Homo sapiens: one gene and its partners. Changing the gene in region 2 together with the main gene of any one other region gives a genetic interaction. Each region holds a gene or a part of one and is shown on either strand. Other genes may lie near its edges. The genes, in order: MASTL, PPP2R1A, MBTPS2, CDC40, NUP85, GOLT1B and POLN.

Evidence for each region.
Region 1: changes in PPP2R1A (region 2) and MASTL together harm fitness less than expected from each alone (positive genetic interaction), as found in Homo sapiens cells (one large-scale study listed by BioGRID).
Region 3: changes in PPP2R1A (region 2) and MBTPS2 together harm fitness more than expected from each alone (negative genetic interaction), as found in Homo sapiens cells (one large-scale study listed by BioGRID).
Region 4: changes in PPP2R1A (region 2) and CDC40 together harm fitness more than expected from each alone (negative genetic interaction), as found in Homo sapiens cells (one large-scale study listed by BioGRID).
Region 5: changes in PPP2R1A (region 2) and NUP85 together harm fitness more than expected from each alone (negative genetic interaction), as found in Homo sapiens cells (one large-scale study listed by BioGRID).
Region 6: changes in PPP2R1A (region 2) and GOLT1B together harm fitness more than expected from each alone (negative genetic interaction), as found in Homo sapiens cells (one large-scale study listed by BioGRID).
Region 7: changes in PPP2R1A (region 2) and POLN together harm fitness more than expected from each alone (negative genetic interaction), as found in Homo sapiens cells (one large-scale study listed by BioGRID).

What each region holds. Positions count from the first base shown.
Region 1 is NC_000010.11:27,161,852-27,165,351, forward strand, and holds part of MASTL (serine/threonine-protein kinase greatwall), read left to right. Parts: intron 1-3,212; coding exon 3,213-3,319; intron 3,320-3,500. UniProt on the Homo sapiens protein: Serine/threonine kinase that plays a key role in M phase by acting as a regulator of mitosis entry and maintenance.
Region 2 is NC_000019.10:52,224,552-52,228,051, forward strand, and holds part of PPP2R1A (serine/threonine-protein phosphatase 2A 65 kDa regulatory subunit A alpha isoform), read left to right. Parts: intron 1-1,165; coding exon 1,166-1,257; intron 1,258-1,413; coding exon 1,414-1,430; 3' UTR 1,431-3,500. UniProt on the Homo sapiens protein: The PR65 subunit of protein phosphatase 2A serves as a scaffolding molecule to coordinate the assembly of the catalytic subunit and a variable regulatory B subunit.
Region 3 is NC_000023.11:21,838,369-21,842,416, reverse strand, and holds the start of MBTPS2 (membrane-bound transcription factor site-2 protease), read right to left. Parts: upstream 2,801-4,048; 5' UTR 2,683-2,800; coding exon 2,608-2,682; intron 1-2,607. UniProt on the Homo sapiens protein: Zinc metalloprotease that mediates intramembrane proteolysis of proteins such as ATF6, ATF6B, SREBF1/SREBP1 and SREBF2/SREBP2.
Region 4 is NC_000006.12:110,225,427-110,228,926, reverse strand, and holds part of CDC40 (pre-mRNA-processing factor 17), read right to left. Parts: intron 2,761-3,500; coding exon 2,684-2,760; intron 96-2,683; coding exon 1-95. UniProt on the Homo sapiens protein: Required for pre-mRNA splicing as component of the activated spliceosome. Plays an important role in embryonic brain development; this function does not require proline isomerization.
Region 5 is NC_000017.11:75,226,179-75,229,678, reverse strand, and holds part of NUP85 (nuclear pore complex protein Nup85), read right to left. Parts: intron 2,935-3,500; exon of another isoform or gene 1,514-2,934; coding exon of another isoform or gene 1,399-1,513; exon of another isoform or gene 548-1,398; intron 1-547. UniProt on the Homo sapiens protein: Essential component of the nuclear pore complex (NPC) that seems to be required for NPC assembly and maintenance. As part of the NPC Nup107-160 subcomplex plays a role in RNA export and in tethering NUP96/Nup98 and NUP153 to the nucleus.
Region 6 is NC_000012.12:21,504,789-21,508,288, forward strand, and holds part of GOLT1B (vesicle transport protein GOT1B), read left to right. Parts: intron 1-2,096; coding exon 2,097-2,188; intron 2,189-3,500. UniProt on the Homo sapiens protein: May be involved in fusion of ER-derived transport vesicles with the Golgi complex.
Region 7 is NC_000004.12:2,232,122-2,235,621, forward strand, and holds part of POLN (DNA polymerase nu), read right to left. Parts: intron 40-3,500; coding exon of another isoform or gene 1-39. Other genes in the region: HAUS3 (HAUS augmin-like complex subunit 3), read right to left, coding at 1-39. UniProt on the Homo sapiens protein: DNA polymerase with very low fidelity that catalyzes considerable misincorporation by inserting dTTP opposite a G template, and dGTP opposite a T template. Is the least accurate of the DNA polymerase A family (i.e. POLG, POLN and POLQ).

The DNA of each region.
Region 1 (3,500 bases), on a different chromosome or scaffold from region 2:
ATGATGAAGGGTTAATAACTGAAAACATATTCAAATATACACGGCCACCACTAAGACCTTGATCAACAAAAGGACAAAGAAAATGAATACACAGTTAACACATATATGTATATATGGGACTGTGTTCTTTTCACTAGTAGTAATTAAATAAATGCTAATATAAGAAAGAGTAAATGAACCATCTTACACTATTAAATGGGCAAAAGAAAGGAATACCGATGGTCCAGTTAGTAATACTACCAAAAAAGCACACTAATATTTTTCTGGGGGCATTGTAAATTAGCATAGTGCTTTCTGGAGGAAATCTGCCAATATGTTTTTAAATATAAAAGTTTTTAATTCTCTTTGATCTAGTGGCTTATGCTTTGGAATTTATTCTAAGGAAATTGTTCAAATGAACAAAATACACATAAATGAAATCACTTGTAGCAACATTGTTTCTAATAGGGAGAAACTAGAAATTACTTAAGTTCATCATAGAAACATGGATAAATGATTGATTATCAACTTAGAAACATATTGTATTCTTGGCCGGGTGCCGTGGCTCATGCCTGTAATCCCAGCACTCTGGGAGGCCGAGGCGGGTAGATCACTTGAGGTTGAGGTCAGGAGTTCTAGACTAGCCTGGCCAACCTGATGAAACCCCATCTCTACTAAAAATACAAAAATTAGCTGAGTGTGGTGGCACACGCCTGTAGTCCCAGCTACTTAGTAGGCTGAGGCAGGAGAATTGCTTAAACCTGGGAGGCAGAGGTTGCAGTGAGCCAAGATCACGACACTGCACTCTAGCCTGGGGGACAGAGCGATACTCCATCTCGAAAAAAAAAGAAACATATTGTATTCTCTATTAGAAAGTGTAGACGGATGGGAAAGTATTAATAATGAAAATAACCAGAAATTGGACTTAAAAACTCTGGAATTATAACTATTAATATTTGAAAATATATGCAGATCTACAATTCTTCATGTGGAAGTACAAAGTTCAACAGTTATGAATACCTAAAACTTTTTACTAAGTTTGGTAAAATCTGATCTATGCTGATGTAGGGGTATTTATAGTCTTTTGTTTGTTTGTTTGTTTTGGGATGGGGTTTTTGCTCTGTTGCCCAGGCTGGAGTGCAATGGCGTGATCTCGGCTCACTACAACATCCACCTCCCGGGTTCAAGCAATTCTCCTGCCTCAGCCTTCTGAGTAGCTGGGATTATAGGTGCCCGCCACCACGCCCAGCTAATTTTTGTATTTTTAGTAGAGACACAGTTTCACCATGTTGGCCAGGCTGGTCTCGAGCTCCTGACCTCAGGTGGTTCACCCGCCTCGGCCTCCCAAAGTGCTAGGATTACAGGCATGAGCCACCGTGCCTGGCCAGGGGTATTTATAGTCTGTTGATTCCAGTTCATGTGATTATTCATATGATTTGCCACTAGGGATATTTCATAATATGCAGTATATTTACCACATTACTTTTCTAAAATCTAAACATTTTTGAATTGTGATTTCAAAGAAATCTGACTTTGAAATCTTATTTCGAAATCTGATTCTAAGGATTTCAGATAAGCTATTGGAAAATATCACAAATGACAAAAATTTTGCATTAAGATAAAATTGTTGATAAATTTAAGTCACTTTGTTTATCATAAGGGTCTAATTTTAATAAAACTTTTTTTGTAAAATATCATATACGTGTATTATTATTATCACTTCATCAATGTGAGGCATAAATGACATTTGTTGTTAAAACTTTCAGTATACTTTCATTTATTTACTTATTTGTTTTTTTTTTTTTTCTTTGAGACAGAGTCTCGCTTTGTTGCCCGGGCTGGAGTGCTGGAGTGCAGGGGCACAATCTAAGTTCACTGCAAGCTCTACCTCCTGGGTTCACGCCATTCTCCTGCCTCAGTCTCCTGAGTAGCTGGGACTACAGGCACCCACCACCACGCCCGGCTAATTTTTTGTATTTTTAGTAGAGATGAGGTTTCACCATGTTAGCCAGGATGGTCTTGATCTCCTGACCTCGTGATCCACCCGCCCTGGACTCCCAAAGTGTTGGGATTACAGGCGTGAACCACCGCGCCCAGCCTATTCATTCATTTATTTATTTTGAGAGAGAGTCTTGCTCTGTCACCCAGGCTGGAGTACAGAGTACAGTGGCATGATCTAGGCTCACTACAACCTCTGCCTCCCAGGCTCAAGCGATTCTTGTCCCTCAGCCTTCCGAGTAGCTGGGACTAGAGGCATGAGCCACCACACCCAGCTAATTTTAAAAAGTCCTATAAGAACATTAGAGTTCTGGGATTATTTTTGTTTGTTTAAGAGACAGGGTCTCACTGTATTACCCAGGCTGGAGTGCAGTGATGTGATCATAGCTTACTGTAGCCTTGAACTCCTGGGAAAAGCAATTCTCCCACCTCAGCCTCCCCAGTAGCTGGGACTACAGGTGCTTGCCACAATGCCCAGCTAGTTTTTAAATTGTAGAGATAGGTCTCACTATGTTGCCCAAGCTGGTTTCAAACTCCTGGGCTCATGGGATCCTCTCCATTTGGCTTCCCAAAGTGCTAGGATTACAGATGTGAGCCACCATGCCTGGATAAGAACATTAGACTTCTCTTACCATTTTTTATATCTAAGTGGAATAGTATAGTATTATGTGTCAGTGTTGAATTATTTTAAAATATTATGCACTGAAACATGCTAATAATCTGGGTCAGTTTCTATCTTGACCTAGGCTTAAACATATTAGCTAACGTGAGGGGCCTAAAATTAATATTGATTCCATACCATCTCCTTATTTATTTATTTAGTTTTTGAGATAGAGTTTTGCTCTGTCGCCCTGGTCGGAGTGCAGTAGCGCGATCTCGGCTCACTGCAACCTCCGCCTCCCGTGTTCAAGTGATTCTCCTGCCTCAGCCTCCCGAGTACCTGAGATTACAGGCGCCCACCACCAAGACCAGCTACTTTTTGTATTTTTAGTAGAGACAGTGTTTCACCATGTTGGCCAGGCTGGTCTCGAACTCCTGACCTCAAGTGATCCATCTGCCTCAGCCTCCCAAGGTGCTGGCATTATAGGTGTGAGCCACCGTGCCCAGCCACTGTCTCCTTTTTTAACATTTGGTTTACAAAAAATTGTTTTGTTGTCATATACATAACATTCATTTTTAGTCAATGGGAGGTAAAGGTTTTAAATACATTTATATACTTTTCTTTGCATACATAGATATTAATATGATGGATATCCTTACAACACCATCAATGGCAAAACCTAGACAAGATTATTCAAGAACCCCAGGACAAGTGTTATCGCTTATCAGCTCGTTGGGATTTGTAAGTACTTGAGAAGAAAATTAACATGACATACCCCTTCATGATCACCACTTAAAATTTAAAATCACCTTTAAAAAAAAAGATCAAAATAGATTTAAATATCAAGCATTTGGATTTACTTTAACAGTTTGTCTACTTAGGTGGTATAACAGTCTATGTACTTAGGTGGTGTTTTGGGGAA
Region 2 (3,500 bases):
ACCCATTTGCTGGGCCTCAGAGACTTGGGGGTTCTGAGATTCTGTTCCACTTTCCCAGCCTGCTCTGATCTCCCTGTTTGGGGCCCCAGTCCTTGTTTATCATACTTCTGACCTTTAAGTAATTGGTTGGTTGGTTGGTTTTTTGCAGTTTGTTTGGTTTTCCTTTGAGGCAGAATCTCGCTCTGTCGCCCAGACTGGAGTACAGTGGTGCGATCTCGGCTCACTGCAACCTCTGCCTCCTGGGTTCAGGCAGTTCTTGTGCCTCAGCCTTTCAAGTAGCTGGGATTACAAGTGTGCACCACCATGCTTGGCTAATTTTTGTACTTTGAGTAGAGATGGGGGTTTTCCCATGTTGTCCAGGCTGGTCTTGAACTCCTGGCCTCAAGTGGTCTGCCCACCTTGGCGTCCCAAAGTGCTAGGATTACAGGCTTGAGCCCCCGTGCTCGGCCTTGAGTTTACCTTTTTTTTTTTTTTTTTTTTTTTGAGACGGAGTTTCGCTCTTGTTGCCCAGGCTGGAGTGCAATGATGCAATCTTGGCTCACCACAACCTCCGCCTCCCAGGTTCCAGCAATTCTCCTGCCTCAGCCTCCCAAGTAGCTGGGATCACAGGCGTGCACCACCACGCCCTGCTAATTTTGTGTTTTTAGTAGGGACAGGGTTTCTCCATGTTGGTTTGGCCAGGCTGGTCTCAAACTCCCAACCTCAGATGATCCACCCACCTTGGCCTCCCAAAATGCTGGGATTACAGATGTGAGCCACCACGTCCGGCCTGATTTTACTTTTAATTGACTCATAATTTTATATATTTATGGGGGTATAGTAGTGTTTCAATAATGTGTGCAAATGTGTAATGATCAAATTAGGATAATTAGCATATCTATCACCTTAAATGTTTACTGTTTCTTTGTGATGAGAACATTCAAAATCTTCTCTTATAGCTGTTTTGAAATATGCAAAATGTTATTATTAACTATGGTCACCCGCCTGTGCAGTGATCAGAGATTTCTAATTCCTGTGTGTGCCCTGGATTCTTGAGACTCCTCCCACCTTGGGTTTGGTGTATCCGTGTCTGTGTACACTCTCTTGCCCAAGAGCCCTGTGCCCACCTGTTGCCCCAGTCCATCCTGGCTCACCCTCTCTCTCCCTGTCTCCTTTCGCTTTCCAGCACCTTGCAGAGTGAAGTCAAGCCCATCCTAGAGAAGCTGACCCAGGACCAGGATGTGGACGTCAAATACTTTGCCCAGGAGGCTCTGACTGGTAAGACCTAGAAAGCACGGAGCCCTAGCAGGAGGGTGGACTTTGAGGACAGGCACTGGGCCTGTGGGCAGCAGCTTCTGGGAGGGGGAGGTACCTTGGCATTGTGGGCAGAGAGAGGGCTCTGGTTCTGATTCTTGCCTGTTCCTGTTTTCCTAGTTCTGTCTCTCGCCTGATGCTGGAAGAGGAGCAAACACTGGCCTCTGGTGTCCACCCTCCAACCCCCACAAGTCCCTCTTTGGGGAGACACTGGGGGGCCTTTGGCTGTCACTCCCTGTGCATGGTCTGACCCCAGGCCCCTTCCCCCAGCACGGTTCCTCCTCTCCCCAGCCTGGGAAGATGTCTCACTGTCCACCTCCCAACGGGCTAGGGGAGCACGGGGTTGGACAGGACAGTGACCTTGGGAGGAAGGGGCTACTCCGCCCACGTCAGGGAGAGATGTGAGCATCCCGGGTCACTGGATCCTGCTGCTGTAATGGGAACCCCTCCCCCATTTACTTCTCCACCTCCCGTCCTCCCCATCATTGGTTTTTTTTTGTGTGTCAACTGTGCCGTTTTTATTTTATTCCTTTTATTTTCCCCCTTTTCACAGAGAAATAAAGGTCTAGAAGTAGTTGGTCCTCTGGCCTTAGTCATCAGCTTGGAGGAGGGGGCACCACCCCAGAGCCACAACATCTGCGCTTTTCTCTGGAGAAGATCTTGTTACAGGACCCATTATACCCCTATGTCCCGAAAGAATACTCTGGGGATCCCCCCAGGAGTGCTGCTGGCCTTTGGGGTAGAGGGTCCATGAGGTGCTCTGGGTGGTGTCCTGTAGTGCAGTTCAGATTCATAGATGTCGGCCGAGTATTTGGGGGGTTAAGAGCAGGTGCCTTGGAACCAGACTGCCTGGGTCCAAATTGTGGCTCCTTCAGTTAATAGACGTGTGACTAGGAGTAGCTTGTTAAGTCTTTATGAGCTCAGTTTTGTATTGTGTAAAATGAGAGTTACAGTAATACCTAGATTGCAGGGTGGGTGGCGAGGACCAAGTGAATTAGTACCTGGAAAGTGTGTAACAGTTTCAACATGAGAAGTACACAACATGAGAAGCAGAGTTAGCTGTACATTGCCAGAGAACCCCCTGTGGGCCATTTCCTGTGTTCTTGAAGAAGACTTGGGCTTGGACCCTGTCCCCAGGAGGTCTCAGAGTAATCAGGACGGTACTAGGGAGAGAACTGTGGCAAGATAGATCAGTTATCTCGGTATCTATTCTCCCCTTCCTAATGTAGAAGCTCTGATTTTTAACTGGGCAGATGACTACATGGATTCAAGGTATTTTCCTAGTGTCTCTTGAAATTAGGTGTGGTATTGTGACCAAATTCTAGCCAAAAAGATGTTGAACAGAAGTGGTATATGCAGCTTCTAGGAAGTGTTCTTAAGGGGGAAGGCGTCATCCCCCACCTTTCCTCCTTCCTGCACTCTGGAATGTGGACCAGATGGCTGGAGTAGGAGCTGCCACCTGGGGCCAGAAAATGATCTTAGGCGTGAAGGTCAAGTAAGGCAGGACAAGAGAGAAGGAGCCTGCCTCCCCGAGGCTGTGAAGAGCCATGCCAGTACTGTCACCTGGGAGAATTAAACTGGTCAAGTGCCTGTTCGTTTAGGGTTTCATCACTTGAAGGTGACCGGAATTCTAACTGATGGAGGGAGGGGCCCAGAGCACCCTGGAGAAAGGAGCAAGGGACGTATGGCTGGTGGTGTCTGCATGGAAGGGTTTCACAGAGGAAATGATGCTTGAGCACATTTTGACCCAGGTGGTGGAAGGGAAATGTGGCTTTGAGTGACAAGGTGATTTCACCAGCTCAGCCTTCATATTACCACATCCCTACCCTTTGTTAGACTTTATTGTGCCCTAGGGGATGAGGCTGAAGGAGACCAAAAAGCATCTTTAGAAATTTCCATTTATGCCCTGGGCGATAAACTCTCTCCCAGTTGAGAACTACTGCTCTAGAAATGTGAACACACGTGTAACCAAACGTCAAAGTCTGACATTAAACTTTGACTTTCCCCATGGTTAACGCTGCTGGTCCATTGTAACAAGAGTGCAGTGGACCAGCAGCCTTTGCATTCTCAGGAGCTTGTTAGAAATGCAGAGCCTCTCGTCCCTGCCCCGACCTGCTCAGGCAGAGCCTTCATTTTAACAAGATGCCCAGGTTCATCTGCACACTGAAGTTAGAGAAGTCCTGCCTTAAATACTAACCCAGTTTTTC
Region 3 (4,048 bases), on a different chromosome or scaffold from region 2:
GAAGGGACAGTTGCGATCAGTGTTTGCTTTCTTCTTCTGAGCAACAACTCTAAGAAGTTAGGCCAACCTCGATCATGTAAAAAGTAAAAAACTTATCTAAAGCCATCTTGGGCTCAATAATGTCCCTTAAATTCTCTGGGGTTGTGGGGATAGGGGCTTATACACAGCCCCAACAAGAGTTTTACCTTTAGGGAAGTTTGAAGTCCTTGACTAATATAGGATTTTGGATGACATAAGGCTGTGTTATATACCTGACACAGTAAGTACAGTAAGTATTGTCATATTCATGCCCACCCATGTGAGAAACTTATCTGTCCAAGAAGGAAATCTTAGCCCTATCATAGTCTTAAAAAATGACCATAGTCTGAATATAGGTAGCTGTTTGCTTTGGATCTGTAGTATTATCTGCTCTCAGTCTTCAGGTAGTTAAATTTTAAGTGTACTTGTTTTCCAAGACTTGGAAAAGGAGTGACACAACTTCTCTAACAGATGTCTATGCAGAAATCCTAGAAAAGCCCAGGGTGGATCAGCAGACCAAGCTGGAGGCAGAGAAACTAAAGGTGCAGGCTCCTAAAAGTTGAGGTCTCTCCATTTCCCAGGCAGATACTCTGAGTAGGCGTTAGGTCTTTTGCTCAGAGGTTGGTGCATTCTTAAGGAGCTAGGGGTTGTTACTGAAACCAGTGACATCTTGGTCACCTCACACACTTGTGACTAGGGACTGTAAAAGTTCTTTTTATTTTAGATTTTTTTCACATATGCAACATGAAGAAATCATGTGGCTTTGTGTGTGTGTCTTACTATGTTGCTCAGGCTGGCCTGGAACTCCTGGCCTCAAGCGATCCTCCCGCCTCTTCCTCCCAAGTAGCTGGGACTACAGGCTGCACCACCATGCCTGGCTCATGTGGCTTTTTCAAACAACAAAATCATTGTGGCCTGTATTGCTTATGACACGTTAACCACTATGCCAAGTACTTTAAATCAGTGCTTTTTCTTTTGAGACAGGGTCTTGCTCTGTCACCCAGGCCAAAGTGCAGTGGCACGATCTTGTTTCATTGTTAACCTCTGACTCTCAGACTCAAGAGATCCTCCTACCTCAGCCTCCAGAGTAGCTGGGACTACAGGCATGCACCACCATGGTTGGCTAACTTTTAAATTTTTTGTAGAGATAAAGTCTCACTATATTGCCCAGGCTGGTCTCAAACTCCTGGACTCAGGCAATCCTCCCACCTCAGCCTCCCCCAAAGTGCTGGGATTACAGGTGTGAGCCACTGTGACCGGCCACATCAGTGCTTTTCAAACACAAACAGGTGCAGAGGAGTCACCTGGGATCTTGCTAAGATGCAGATTCGGATTCCCTAGGTCAGGGGTGAGGCCTGGGATTCTGCATTTCTAACAAGCTCCGAAATGATGCAAGTGCTACTGGTCCTTGAACCTCAAGTTGAGGAGCGAGACTTTATGTGGATACACTAATGTAATTCTCTCTGTAATCTTAGGAGATCCTTACTATTATCTCTATTTAAAGATGAGAAACCAAGGCACAGATAGCAATTTTCCCAAGGTCACATTGGCTAGAAGCCCAGCCCTGGATCTAAGGACTACGCTATGTAACCTCCTGCACTTTACAAGTTTAAATGATAGAAGGAAAAGTCTCATTTCATTTTATTGTTAAAGCTAAAACATGCAATACTATGGTTTTCTATTTTAAATGGTATTCATAACATGAAGATTTTGCTATCCATAACTGGAATTTTTATTAAACACTTGAGAATTTATATGATCTTATTCCACATATATAGTTACTCTTCCCCATCCCCTACCCCCCAGTACTCAATTCCAAAAGCTTGCCTGAAGCATGTGGTCAGACGACTCTTCCTGATTTTTTGCTACCCTTCTCAAATAACTGGAAAATGGACCGTGCACCCAGGGTATCTGGTTAGTGTGAAGAAGTGGGGTGCAGCGTGTAAATCAGAATTCAAGTAGTTAGAAACTGGTTATGTAAATCCTTGCTATTTGAGTGTGCTACTTTGAAGTACACTCTGTGATCTGGCAGCATCAGTAGCACTTGGGAACTGGTTAGAAATGCAGAATTTTAGGCCTTGCCGCAGACCTGCTGAATCGGAATCTGCATTTTGACCGCAAACCAGATGATCATATGCATTTAAAAATTTGAGACTACTGATTTCAATCACGACTTGATTTAGATTCATTCCAATATCTGAGTCTCTAGAGCGTTTTGAACTTAAAAACAATAAGGGAAAGCACTGTCTTTACTAAGCAGACGTTTTCTTTTCCTCCCTGCTGCACTGCAGCTGCTGGGTCTGGCAGGGCCCCGGCCCTCCCGATCCCACCACTGGCGCCTCCCGGGCAGGACCCGAAGGCTGAAGGGCCTGCACTGCCCCGCACTGCGACAGTGGCAGCCGCGCAGGCCGCCACAACCCTCCCGCGGCCGGCAATGTTTTATTTACTCCACCGGGCCGATCCACCACGCGGACTGTCGCACGTGGGCACCGTCCAGCCCGGGAGGCGCCAGGCAGGGGAAGAGAAAAGAAGGCCTTGCGCTCCGGCCATGGGCACCGCGGGCTTGGACCTTAGGCCCAAGGCCCTCACCTTCAGCACCAAGTCGGTCAGGTAGACGACAGTCCAGCCACCCACCACCACCACCACCAGCGACACCGGAATCATGGCGGCAGCGGCGGCAGAGGAGGGAAGGCGAGCCCCGGCGTCCTCCTCCCTGCACCGCCAACAGCTGACCGCGCGCGCCTTACAGCCCCAGCATCCGCTCAGGAACCAAGCTACCGCCGGCTCCTTCCTTGCGGTGGCACGGTTTCCCACCGGACTCTTCCAGTGGGGACATACAGGAGGATTTGCTAGTACCGGAAATGGCACGGGGGCTTATTTTTGCGGGCGCTCGGGCGCTGCCGTCCAGGCAGTAGTTCGAACTCGGCATCTAGTCTTGTAGCGATTTCTTAGGCTTTGGCCCTCCCTGCTGTCTACTCTCCATTCTCGCCAGTTCTGGTCAGGGGTTTGCTGTTTCTTTTAACCCATGAGGATTTGGGGTCGTCTGAAGTAATAATCTCTCCCTCCCCGACCCTGTCATAGATATCCAGATTTAATTGTTTATCCTTTTTACTGAAGTGTAAATTTACATGTAATGAAATCATACATACAGAGCTCAATTGTCCATTTCTGTGAGTTTTGATAAATATATATATATATATATATACGTGTACCCTAATCAAAATGGAGAAAATTTCCCTCTCAGGAATTTCCTTCTTGCGTCCCTTCCTAGTCAGTAGCCCCTCCCCCTGTTCTGATTATTTTTAACTTTATGTAAATAGAAAGCAATAAGTACTCTTTGTGTCTGGCTTGTATCGTTCAACATGCTTTTTGAAATTTATCCATGTTGATTAAATTAGGCTCTTTTTTCAACCTTTTATAATATTTGAGATGGTGCTATGGTTAAAAATCAGAACTCTGAACACCTACACATTTTAACGTTAATGTATACCTGATTATATATTGAACTAGAGCAGCAGTTCTCAACCTTACCTGCACTTTAGGATCACCAAGGTCTTTTAAAATTCCCGATGCCCGTTCTGTATCCTCGACCAATTAAATCAGATGCTCAGTGGGACCCAAGCATTTATACTTTTTAAGCTCCTCAAGTCATTGCACTGTGCAGCCAAGGTTGAGAACCACTGAACTAGATAATCTCTAAGAGAAAAGAAAACTATTTATTGGGGTTTTTTTACGTTCTATTTATGTGCATCTTTAAAAGTTATTTGTTTCAACTTTTCTGGAAAAGCATCATTAGCTATAATAATGCTAATACCAAAATATTGAGAACATAATACTATCTCAAGAACAAGTATCCCAAATAAAAATGTATCCTCAACCCCCTTCCAAGTGAAAATATACAATAATACCAGAAACCTATATTACAAATATTGCTACTAATTTGCCTCATTCTCCCTGCTTTTCCTAAAGTTTTACTCACTTAGGGACATGTTTCTCCAGCTTCAAGACAGCTTATGACTGTTTTACATAT
Region 4 (3,500 bases), on a different chromosome or scaffold from region 2:
GCCCTTAAAAATTTTTTTCTTATTTAATCTAAATCTGTTCTGTGCTCCAAAAATTAAGATTTGGTTGTCCATTGATTGGCATGCTAGCCATTTTCCTGTAAATTCAATAAATGAGGTATTTTAGAGGAAGACTAAAACAATTTTTAAAACTTTTTATTTTAAATATGTTCACTGTGATTAATATAAGTTTTGCTCCCAAATACTTTATAATACTAAAAAATAAATTTACTATACCACCTGTAAAATGTTATAAATATGTCACTGGCAAGAGGTATTAATATATAAACTAATGGCTTTTGCATATACGATCCTATATCATTGAGCACTCTCATATAAAAGTTTTTAAAAAAATAAGGAAATATAGAAATTCCAAGCTTAATGTTAAAGAAATAAGCTAAAAGTTGTGAAATGAAATTAATTTATAGTAAGTATAGACAACAGAACTATGGGAAATAGGAGAAAGAGACTTATCTGTGGTAATTACAGAATAAAGAAAGATTAAGGGGTGAGAAAGCCTAGGGTTATTAAATAAAACTATACAAAAAAAGATATATTAAAAATTATAGTAACTTTTTAAAAGGCTACAATGCTTTTCTCTACTTAGGATTCATCAAAGCCCCTAGAGCCTAAACTGCAGCGTCTATAGTCATGCACCACTTAACAATGTTTTGGTCAATGATGGACCGCACGTATGACAGTGGTCCCATAAGATTATAGTGCTAAATTTTAACTGTACCTTTTCTATGCTGAGATTTTACTGTACCTTTTCTATGTTTAGATACACAAATGCTTACCACTGACTACATTATTCAGAACAGCAACATGCCATACAGGGGTAAAGCCTAGGAGCAACAGGCTATACCATACAGCCTAGGGTAAGTAGACTATACCATCTAGGTTTGTGTAAGTACTCTGTGTGATGTTCACAAAATGACAAAATCACCTAACACTGCATTTCTCAGAAGTACCCTTGTTGTTAGGAATGCATGACTATACTTGCATCCTATATATAGTCATCCCTTGGTATCTGTTGGGAATTGGTTCCAGGATCTGCACCCCTACCCAATACCAAAATTCACAGATGCTCAAGTCCCTTATATAAAATGGCATAGTATTTGCATATAACCTACATATCTCCTGTATACATTAAATCACCTCTCGATTACTTATAATGCCTAATGCAACGTAAATGCTTTGTACCTAGTTGTTATGCTGTGTTGTTTTTAATTGTTGTATTGTTATTTTTTATTGTTTATTTTGTTGAATATTCTGGATTCGTGCTGGTTGAATCCCAGGATATGGTGCTCATGGATACAAAGGGCCAACTGTACATGTAAACATTACTTACTAAGGAAACAGACTTAAATAATGCCTGAGTGGGTAAATGGCCTTGTTCAAGATGGGCACAAAATCTGTAATAGGTGGTTTAAAAATACGCTACATGAAATATAGATGCACAGTGACGAAGTATATAATCTAGCAATGATCAAAAAAAGGTTCAGTTAGGTTTCTCTTCTCATAAAAATGATAGAGCATTTGACAACTATTACCATTTGCTTGTGTCAGAGGCCCTGATGGAACAGCAAATTCTTCCTTGCCCTACACTTGGAGTTAATTATGTGAATTGACAGTGGTTTCAATGACAAGGTCCCCCAAACATCAGAACTCCCACTTTAAGACTCTCATGTAAAGCTATAATTACATCAGTATATTGTCAGTATATCTGTAGCACAAATTATCTTGTACGTAAAAGACAATGGATTAAACAATATTAAATAGATTTATCTTCTTAATTTTTGCCTGAGAAAATCTTTTATAGTGAATTGCTAAAGTGTTCTCTCATTATGGAGAATCAGACCAAAACTTCCTATCCCCTGAAAGAGTTTACAGTAAATCACTATTACTATTTTTTTTTTTAGAGAGAAGGGTCTTGCTCTGTTGCCCAGGCTGGAGTACAGTCACATGATCATAGTCAATCTCCTGGCTCAACCAAACTGCCCATCTCAGCCTGACCAAGTAGCTAGGGCTACAAATGTGCACCACCATGCCAGCTGATTTTTAAAATTTTATTTTGTAGAGATGAGGTCTCTCTATGTTGCCCAGGCTAGTCTCAAACTCTTGGGTTCAAGTGATTCTTCTGCCTTGGCCAAATCATTATTAAATGATTTACTGAACGTGATTCTGTTTGGAAGGAGAATTAGAAAAGAAAACTCTGGCCGGGCATAGTGGCTTAGGCCTGTAATCCCAGCACCTTGGGAGGCTGAGGAGGGAAGATCACTTGAGCCCAGGAGTTTGAGACTAGCCTGGGCAACAAAGGGAGACCCTGTCTCGAAAAGAAGAAAAGAAAAGAAAAGAGGGGAGGGGAGAGGAGAGGAGGGGAGAGGAGGGGAAAAGAAAAAAGAAAAGAAAACTGATTGTTAAATAAAAATCTGATGTTCAATCAATGTTAGCTGTAAATCATTGTTTCTTTTATTTTTATTTAAAAAGAGACACAGAAAAGTAGGTGAGGTGACTTGCATATGAAAACCAGTAATTCTTTCTAATATTGTAAAGATTACCTTATACAAATAATGGCACAGTGACAAACTTCCCCAAGAAGGAAGGGGCCAAAGTTCTTTTGAATAAAGAAATCACACTGTATCTTAGAAGCTCATTTAAAAATACAATCTACATACTAACTCACCATTTGGAGACAAAGTCACTGCAGGCATTGAGTGCATACTGGGTTCTGCTATGTACTTGAAATCCACAGGGATATCCCTAAAAATTTTAAATAGCATATCAGAATAAGCAACTTTTAAAAAGTACCTTCAGAATTATCTCTGGAACAAAGGAATAATATGCAAATAAAAGCAAACTCTTGATATTATATATTTAATAAATCTTTCATGAAACTTTCTGGAAGAAGAAAAATCACAAGATGACACTGTACTGCTTATGGTAAATCCTGTACTTCATAAATCACTTTCCATGATCATTATAACAGTGGTGGTGATTTTGTTTTCTATTTCATTTAAACTTTGGCCTTTATGTTAAAAAATCTGTTACTGAAAGAAAGTTCTTTAATAATGTACCATGGTGATGGATACACTAAAATCTCAGAATTCACCACTATATAATTCATCCATGTAACCAAAACCCACTTTTACTCCAAAAGCTGTTGAAATAAAACCAAAAATTAAATTAAAAATGTACCATGGTAGGGTGAAGCAAGATGTCTGAGGTAAGCCTATGGGGAAGTGTTATTTACTGGCTAGCCTACCTTAACTTGAGGAGGTGAGAGTGTTAAACAGCCTGCAGCAATGCAGGTGGATGGCAGGCAAAGCTGTAGGGATCTGTGAGCTGATCTAGCCCATCCAGAAATGATGATAAATGATGATAAATAAATGCTTGGTACCTGGACTATCTTCAGTTTACATGTAAAGCATTTCAAATGTGTTTGGTGAAGGAGAAAAAACATAAAAAAAAAAAAAAAACCTCATGTGAGTGATGAAAGAATG
Region 5 (3,500 bases), on a different chromosome or scaffold from region 2:
AGTGCTGCACAAAGCCACCACGGTCTCTCTACAGGGCCCAGCAGGCCTGAACCACACAGTTAGGTCTTAGATCACACACGCACACACTCCCACTCTCACTCTGTCTCTCTCTCACTCTGAAGGATTCTGAGTGAGCAGCCGAGACACAGAGCAGGTGGGCATCCTTAACATTCAAGGCAAGAAAGGCCTAATTATCAGCTCCAAAGTAGCCCTCTGCTGAAAACGAGAGAACGCTGCGGAGTTGGGAAGACCAGCTACGGTGAAGGTGACCCCTCTAAGCAACTGTAGCCCCAAATGAGCTGTTTGTCCTGTACTAAGGTCACTGTCAACTCCTTACCCAGGCCCCATCTTGCTTGTTGGGGGCTCTGGAGTAATCAAAGCTCCAGTGCCTCTACCTGCTATTCTGGAAATGGGGTGTGAGGTTTGTAAACACTGCTGCACCCTGCATCCAAGATTGTGGGCTGGGCCAAAATACAAGTCAGAAGATTCTAGATTCAGCAGACATTAAGCTGGAACTCTTCTTGGTTATTGAAGGAAGACTTGTCACCTTTTAGCTCGATACTTTTGGAGGACTTGAAGGGCACCAGGAAACTGCCGACATCTTGCCCAACTCCCAGTGAAGTGCACCCCAGCTGTTTCCTCTTGCCAGACAGCAAGGAACTGGCCCGTCTTCAGAGGAAGCTGTAAGCCAGGAGGGAAGAAGGGACCCTGTGGAGGACTCCTGCCATCTCCTTTCAGCTAAGGGGTTAGCAGTCAAGCATGCCCACCCAGGCACTGAGAGACAAACCCCTGGCCCTTTAGCAGGGCTGACGAACTACAGCCTCTGAGTCAGGATCCCCTGGCTGCCTTTTCTGCCCCTTAGGGTCTGGCACGATTATTGACATAGGAGTAAATCAGGGGCCCACTTAGAAACCTCCCTTCTCCATGTTCATATGAAGGTGGTGTGAACAGGAAAGGAAAAAAAAGAAAGAAACCTTTTTTCTAATGCCTTTAAAAAGGCATGCCAACAGCTCACTGGCTCAAGTCCAGAAAGAGACACACTTCCCTGCCGCCCAGAACTGTGCATGGGTCTGACTGATACATCCCATGAGAAAACAAGTGCCCACAAGACCCCAATTCAACCTTTCCCCAGAGCCAGGAGGGCACACTTCCTAAAACTGCTACTGCCTCTGAAGACATTGCAGCCCATTTCACAATTCCTGGGACAAGCTCTGCTTTTCTGTTCCTCTTTCAAAACAGGATAGGAGGTAGCCTCGTGATCAGAGAAATGCAAACTCCAAGATTTCCCACTAACAGAGCTCAGATCCCTTCCTGCTTGTGAGAGTGGAGAGAGGCTGAGACTGGGGGACTGCAAGCCTAATCATTCCTTGTCTGTGTCCGGCACGAGAGTGATGTTGTTCACCCCTCTTCATGGTACTTCTCTTTCTCTTCTGCCACTGGAAACAGCAGGATGCTTTCCCCTTTTATACTCCCTGCATCCAACAGACTTCTTCTGCTCAAATCTGTTTTATTCCTAAAAATCCAGATACAGGGCTTATAAATTAGGAAGCCCTGGTGAAACTCACTCACTGTTATAACACAGGAAATTTAGAATACTCAACTATGGGCAGAGACACCAACAAAGCCAAACGATGGTGTGTTTGTGTGTTTTTAAGTTATTCTCACTAATTCTTCCATGCAGGGACTTCTCACAATGTTTACAGGCCTGTGAAAATATTGACACAAAACTTGACTTTCAGGCCGGGCATGGTGGCTTACGCCTGTAATCCTAGCACTGTGGGAGGCCAAGACAGGCAGATCGCTTGAGCTCACAAGTTCAAGAACAGCTTGGGCAACATAGTGAAACCTCATCTCTCCAAAAAAAAAAATAATAATTAGCCAGGCATGGTGGCGCACACTTGTAGTCCTAGCTACCTGGAAGGCTGAGGCAAGAGGATCACTTGAACCCAGGAGGTCAAGGCTGCAGTGAGCTGAGATCACTCCACTGCACTCCAGCCCGGGTGACAAAGTGAGACCCTGTTTCAAAAAAAAAAAACTTGGCAGGGCGCGGTGGCTCACGCCTGTAATCCCAGCACTTTGGGAGGCCGAGATGGGCAGATGACCTGAGGTCAGGAGTTCCAGACCAGCCTGCCTAGGCAACATGGTGAAACCCTGTCTCTATTGAAAAACACAAAAATTTGCTGGGCGTGGTGACGGACACCTGTAATCCCAGCTACTTGGGAGACTGAGGCAGTAGAATTGCTGGAACCCAGTAGGTGGAGGTTGCAGTGAGCCAAGATCACGCCACTGCACTCCAGTCTGGGTGACAAGAGCAAAACTCTGTCTCAAAAAAAAAAAAAAAAAAAAAAAAAACCCAGAAACAAACACACAAAAAACTTGTTTTTCATTCCCCAAATCTAGTATCATTTTCTTGAAGCCCTGGCATTCTTTTGGCCAAAACAAGAAAAGCAGGTAGGGCGAAGGAAACTCTTCCCATGCCCAGATCTACAAACAGCCAGTTGAGGTCAGTGAATCTGACACCTGATCAAGGCCATCTTCTGCCATTACCCACTTCCTCCCTTCCCAGCACGTCTTCAGTGCAATGCCCACCATCCAGGGTGCACAACAAGGAAGGGGACCTTCTTTCTGACTTACCATATATGGAGAGTTCTGGAAAGGTTTACCTTTGATTGATTATGTTTGGCACTCCCTTTCCTGCCTTGCTAAAGATTCAGTGCAATCATAGAACACCCTCTTTTGGATAGAGGGCTGGAAATTCTGAATAATACCCAGCCTGAAGCCCAGTGGTTCGGTAGCTCACGTCACTGGAGTGAGACTCTTGGAACACGCCATCCCATAAGGTGTCCATTAGGTGCCAAGAAACAGGCTTGCTGGCTTTTTCTAGATTTTAAATGTCAAAGTAGTTTCCCGCGATGTTATTTTAAATGAACATCCCTGAAATGGAAACAGTTATGTATATGGTAGCCCTCAAGCCTCCAGGAAGTCCCTAAGCTCACCCAGAGAAAAGCCATTATCTACCTGTGGCAAGTCAAGCAGGGGAGCAGATGCTATGGTTTGAAGGGATCCCCTCTAAAACCCCAGTTTTGCCAATGTGATAGTATTAAGAGGTAGGGCCTCTAAGAGGTGATTAGGCCAGGAGGTGATTAGGCCACATCCTCCCTCATGAATGTGATTGGGTGCCCTTATAAAGCGACTTGATGAAGGGAGTTTGTCCTTCTTGCCCTTCCACCACATGAGAACACAGTGTTCAAGGTGCCATGTTGGAAGCAGAGAGCAGCCCTCACCAGCAACATTGCCAGTGCCCTGATCCTGGACTTCCTAGCCTCCAGAACGGTGAGAAAATAATCTTTTTCTTTATAAATTATCTGGTCTCAGGTATTCTGTAATATCAGCGTGAGATGGACTAAGATAGCAGGTCTGAGGGAAGAAGGGTAAGGAAGGAACAGGCCACTCTAGAAACGCAAGGTGGTGATATTTGTACACCTAAAAATGGTTACAGT
Region 6 (3,500 bases), on a different chromosome or scaffold from region 2:
GCCTTTTTGACCGCAGTTAATTTTTAATAGTTCTACTTGGCTATGTTAGATAACAAGCTAATATTAAACTTGAATCCCCTAAAAGATGCGTCCCCCAGAAGTTCAGAATACTCCAGTGTCCTTGAGTTTCATGTAACCAAACACCTTTAACCTAAAAAATAAAAATTCTGTGGGAAGAGGTATGGCATTAATGGTTAAGCACATGAGCTTTGGATTCAAAAGACCTTGGTTCGAATGCTTATCTAGAAGTGTGGCTTTAGGCAACTTAAGTCAACTCTCTAAACTTCAATTTCCTCCATCTTTAAAAAGATGTAATTATACCTGCATTCCAGTAGTATTGGAAGTATTAAGTTATATATAAGGTATGTGAAGCACTTCATAAGGCCTAATTCGTGGTAAATTCTCAGTACATAGTAGGTGTCTTTCCATATACCTTCCTTTCTAAAAACATCTCAGAATTTTTATGTAATCATCAAGGTTATTTGTGAAATGATAGAAATTAGTCATCTTCAACTAACAAAGCTGCCGATGTTTAATCCTAACTACTAAATAGTTATTTAATAGAATTTTACTTGCTCTTTTGTCCATATTTTCCTCTATGAAATTATGTCCACTATCCAAATAGTTAATTTGGTAAATTCTCTTAAGGCCTTTGATCATGAAAGTATCAGCCTCAAATTTTCATAGGAATGTGTGTTGAATTCACTTAACTGGTGTATTTATAGACCAGGTACCTGAATTATTTTAGACTAACTTTGGGAACAAAAGGTGTCTGCAATGGAAGACACTAGTTATCAGGAAATTGAGCAGGTGGGGAATGTAGAAAAAGCTAAAGTTGATAAAAGTTTTCAAGTTATCAGAACATTTTATATGACTTAAGAGTTTTTTAAGTAGCTGTGACCTAGATTTTAGCTTTCTGGAGCTGAGGCAAAAAAGTTAAGCAATAGATCAGAAATCAGTGATAGGGTATTTTAAATTGTGCTTCTAAAAATACGGTGGCTTCTACTCTGACTCATCTGTATGCAGATTGTGCTTCTAACTAAACTACGGATTAATGGCTATTTTCTAGAATCAAAACTAAAATGATCAAGGAGGTAACTTAGTGAATTGTGCTTTATAACATTAATAGAAGAGTACATCTGTCACCTTAGAAGTTAAGACTTTTCATACTAAAAAAATAAGACCTAGAGAATGCACAGTCAATAAAAGTATTAATTTTATATACAAGATAAACATAGACTTTAAAGCTTACACCTCGTCTACCACTGTATATTCAGTACCTGGAACAGTTCCTTGCATCTGGCAGTTGATCAACAATTCTTTGTTTTTTAATGAAACTAATGAAACATGAAAAACCTAGAATATTAATATTAGGTAAAACAGTATTCTTTGAAACTTCGGAGAGGTGATTTTAGGACTCTAGACCAAATATTTAAGTAGATTTATAGTTTAGGTAAATTTGTAGATAAGTCCATAATAAGTAATCAAGAAATTAAAAGTGATGCCTGACCTTCTGAAAATTTGGTTTTGAGAATACTGGTACCATGATTTTCGAAATATTTCTTGTTGCCATTGTGACAAGCAGTATATAATTGGATAAAGGATATTGATTGTGCGGACCTACCATAACATTTCTAATGCAGTAAAGAAGGAATCAATTTTAAGAGGAAGAAAGAACTACAGATATTGTGCATTTAAATAATAATTATAGAATGTGAAAGGAGATAAGTAATTAAGGAAACCTATACATTTATGTCTGATGCGAGAGAGCTTTTCAGGAGGAAAAAAACAAATTACATATTAAAACCAAAGGTTTAGAATCCCGATTTATCTTTTTTATTATAGCTATGTCTGAGAAATGCTATCTCCCATATAAGGCTTAGAAATTTTCATTCATGTTTTAAATTTTGAAATAATTTGCTGATAATTAATTTGTTATAAGAGCTAAATAAATGTCATTATGAAGTTAACCTGCAATGTTGGGTACCTGTTTTCTTATACCTATGAAAGGAAAACTGGAAAATTTTCTTAGTTTACAGGGATGTTAATGTGACTTTAATTTTTCTCTACCCTTAACCATATACCTTATATTGCAGAAATTGGAATGGGATTAACAGGATTTGGAGTGTTTTTCCTGTTCTTTGGAATGATTCTCTTTTTTGACAAAGCACTACTGGCTATTGGAAATGTGAGTTTTTAAATATATATTTTAACTAAATTTATAAGGAAATTTTAACTACGAATGAATTATTATCTGCTATTAAATTTGGGGAAAATAATTCACTATTACTCATAAGTAATTCCTGTTACATTCTCTATTTCCATCAGGAATGAAACCTGTCAGCTTTCTGTTTAAATAAAAGGTAAACACTTAATGAGGTTTTCTAATTCCATAACTACTCTGTTAAGTGTTTGTCATGAGATTTACAATAGATTAAATGAAGGCTGCCTCTAAATAGGAGTTCAAAATAGATGACTTGATAGTTTCATGTCTTGATAAATCACTAAAGTATTTTTACTTTAAACATCCAAGACTTCACATTTGATTCAGCTGCATAAGATAGATTTTTTTAACCTTTTTAAAAATATATATTTCTATGTTAATGGTTGACTTGCTTAGAAAGGGATCTATGTTGTTTATTTGGAATGTGTACTATGCTATTCATGTGTGGAGGTTATGATCCAGAAATAAATAATAACCCTTCTAAGGTAGTGAAGACACTGTATGTGTGTGTGTGTGTATATATATATATACACACACACATATATATTTGGGCTTTTAACTGGAAATGGGAAAAGATAAAGAATAGCAAAATTGTTCAAAATTGATGTCTTAATAAATGATAATAGCATTAGTATCCTAGAATATGAAGCTTAACCATTAGGCTTAATATGTATTTGTGCGAAATATTTTTCACTAAAGAATGTTAATGGGGAGGGCAAGTATTTGGAAAGAAAACCTGGGGAAAGCAAGCTCTTAATCCATCACCATTTCTTGTCCACAGAATACATTCAAAATATTTGAAAACACATGGTTGTATTTTTATTTCTGCTGCCACCAGATATTCTAGAATTTATAAAACTAGAATCTTCTTGGCTTCACGTTGTTTCTTCTGCTATCAACTTAGCCATGTCAATATTTCTCCCATCCATAGAAACTCCTGTAGCCTATGATGAATATTTCAGAACCAAGAGGAATACCCTTGGGTGACATATTTATGGGCAGCTTTCCTCTTTATGCCTTGCCAACTCATCTGCTTGACTAAGCCTTCCTCATCCAGCTAAAACTAGGAAAACTACTGCAGACACAGATGCCCCTTGGTAACGTCTAATCTTTCTTTGTTTCTCTTTTTCTCCATTTAATCAAGATAGAAGAGGAATGAGACAAGTGGAACAAAGCTACAACTTTAAAATGCATAACCCACTCCTTGGTTCTGCTGCTTGGTTGTACATTACAGTTCTGTCTGGCCAGTTGCCCACATTAAAAGCCAAACAAATGT
Region 7 (3,500 bases), on a different chromosome or scaffold from region 2:
CAGTTGAGATTCAACTTTATGAAACTGCTCTGTTAACTCCTAAAAAAGGAAAATAAAAATAAAAATTAAAACACTTTATTCCTAATACCAATTATAAAATTAAAATATAATTTACATGGAAAGACTTTAAAGGACTTAATAACTTCCCGCAATTTTAGCAATAAATAAACCTCGATTTAAAATCCATAACAGGTTTAATATAAATTCTAAGTAAGATTAATTGCAACAACTTCTGATAGATAATTTTAAGTGATTCAAAGGAAACTCTTGCTGAAGTGTACTCGATATGTAAGCTGTTCTGTGCATTCATATATTCAACAAATGCTATTGTGCCAAGTACTGTTTTAGAGATTACTGATACAAGAATAAACAAAATCTCCCTGATGGAGCTTATATTCTGCTTAATAAATCAAACCTTGTTTTAGCCTATTCTCTGTTTATTCTGGACAGAAGGTACAGAGAAAGTTGAAATGAAGACCAATAAAAGAGAATTAGCTCAACACAAATCTCCATTTTTCATTTTTTCATATTGTCTTACCAAATAGAATTACACATGACATTCCACGAAAACCATCCTAATCATATAATTTTCCTGCTCAAGAATCTAGCCATGCCGACCCTTCATATTTATTACAGTAAATTCAAATTCCTCAGTGTCTAGCATTTAAACCAGATTATTAACAAGTTTCCATAGCTTTCTAATCAAGCATTCTACTTATAAATTTTAGCCAGTATCACCAAAGAGGTTCTCAGAAAAATCTGTTGCTCTAACTACCCTCAATTTTCCACAGCTTCTAGGCATAGTCCACAAGTATCATAATTATCTGAGGTACTTGTTATGAATACAGATTCCTGTACCCCCCCACTAGACTAAATTACTTAATCTCTGTACAGAGCTAGGAACCTGCGTTTTGATACGCTCCCTGATGATTCTAATGTACAAGTTCAAGAATGACTACTTAAGACCTGTCATAAATGCCAATTCACAGAGGAGTACTTCTTAAAATACATACTTTTGAAAATCAAGTAATTTCGACATTATATCTACATTTAGTGATATCCTCTAAGACAAACTTGGTAAACTTGAATATACTGAGAAACAACAATCTCATCTTTACCTTCAATTAAATACTAAAGATCATACAGTTGCTAAAACAACATTGCTACAGATACTGAAGTTCAGCTTCATTAATAATAGAAACACAAGTTAAAATTGATACGGCATTTTATATCACATTGAGCTAGGGAAAAACACTAATGATACCCACTGATAAGATTAGAGTGAGATTACCATATTTTAGTGATTCTTGGATGCATTTTTTTTTCACATTTTAACATATCTGAAATGAAGATGCATCTTAATCAAGAACATCATATGATTGTTTCTGGCCAGGTACTCTTAAGAAATACTTTCTCATCAACATTCCTGATACACAGTGTGGAAAATTACAGACAACTCTGAGTCAAAAAATAACAGAAGAATTGAACATTGAAATGTGATGCTTTAGAACTACCCTAACCATTTAAATTGACTTATTTTTTTCCTTTTAACATATGCCCAAGAGTGGTATGATAAAAATCTATGTCTACCTACATCTAAAAAGATCTTTTCTAGTAAGTATGAAAAACAAAAATTCTTAATAAGAAAACATTGTGTTGGTTTAACTAAGAGTTTTTCTTTTTTGGCAATTCATAAAATGATGGCGTGCCATATGGTCAATGGTGTCTAGTAGACACTTATATAGTGCTGGTAGCATTATAAACTCCTTTAAAAAGCAATCTGGCCATATCAAAGGCAAAAAAAAGTGTATATACCACCCTGGCACAAAAAACCCCAATGACCCTATTTCCAAGAATGTATCCAGATGAAAGTATCCAACAACAAAAAGCTATATACACAAAGATACATATGATATTGTTCAAGAGCAAACAAAAGAAAAAAAAGAAGACTATCAAAATACCCAGTAACAATAACCAGCTACAAAATTGATGGCACAGTAATTAAATCAAGACAGTATAGTTAACATTAAAAGTTAAGAAAACTATTTAGAGAGTAAAAATGTTTATTTCATCATGCTAAGTAAAAACAAAACTATGGTCTTTGCTGAGGGTCTTTAGAAGTTAGCACCATGGCAGAAGACATGAAGGTCAAAATTAAGAACTACAGGACTGTCCCATTTGACAGCCACTTTGTCAACTAGAACCAGAACATGAACTGCTGGCAAAACTACCTGGACTTCTACCACTCCAAGACGGCAATGACTGCTAAAGGGGGTGATGTCTCTGTGTGCAAATGGTACTGGCATGTGTGCAAGTCCCTCTGCCCCATATCCTTGGTCTTGACCTGGGACAAAGGCACGTTTCCTGGGAAAATCAGAACTGGCTCCACCCCACCTTTCCTCTGTTCTCCATCCTTCTCCCAGGGTGGTAAACGGGGACCTGGGTACATGATGATCCCTACCCTGGGTCCGTGAATCAGGACTTAACTAATAACAAAAACTTACTGGAAAAGTGTAAAGAAAAGAAAACTATATGCCTTACATTACTAAGCAAAAGAAAAATGGCAAAGGAATATTAATATTAGACAAAACAATATCAAGAGAAAAAGCATCACCAGGAATAGTCATTATGTAATGCTAAATGCTTTGATTCACTGCAATTTAAAACGACCAGGATAATTATTCACTGCAACTTTAAACCTGGATATAACTTATAAAATAGACTCAAAATACATAGAGAAAAAAATGATATACAACTACATGGAGAAATTTTCTTCTTTTTTGACACCAAGTCTTGCTCTGTCGCCCAGGCTGGAGTGCAGTGGCGCGATCTTGACTCACTGCAAACTTTGCCTCCCGGGTTCAAGGGATTCTCCTGTGTCAGCCTCCCAAGTAGCTGGGATTACAGTCACCCGCCACCACGCCCGGCTAATTTTTGTATTTTTAGTAGAGATGGGGTTTCACCACCTTGGCCAGGCTGGTCTTGAACTCCTGACCTTGTGATCCACCCGCCTCAGCCTCCCAAAGTGCTGGGATTATAGGCGTGAGCCACCGCACCCAGCCTATGTGGAGAAATTTTCAAATCCACCATCGCAGTGGAAATTTTTAAATCCACCATCGCAGTGGAAATTTTTACACAATTCTCAATAGATCAAGAAGACAAAAATCAGTAATGGGAGACCTTTCAAAAAACAAATCACAGATACCACTTCACACCCGTTGGGATGGCTACTGTTTTAAAAACCACAGGAAATAACAAGTGTTGGCAAAGATGTGGAGAAACTGGAATTGTGCAGCTGTGAGACATATAAGACCATCATAGCAGTATGATCTATAGTAACAAAAACTGTAAATAACCTAAATGTCTGTCAATCTAACAGATAATTTCATTGTGGAATATCATATAATGGAATACTAACTATACAAAAGAGAAAACTATGAATGAACTATATAGCTTTACGTGTATCAACATGAGTGAGTCTCAAAAACATATTAAGCCAT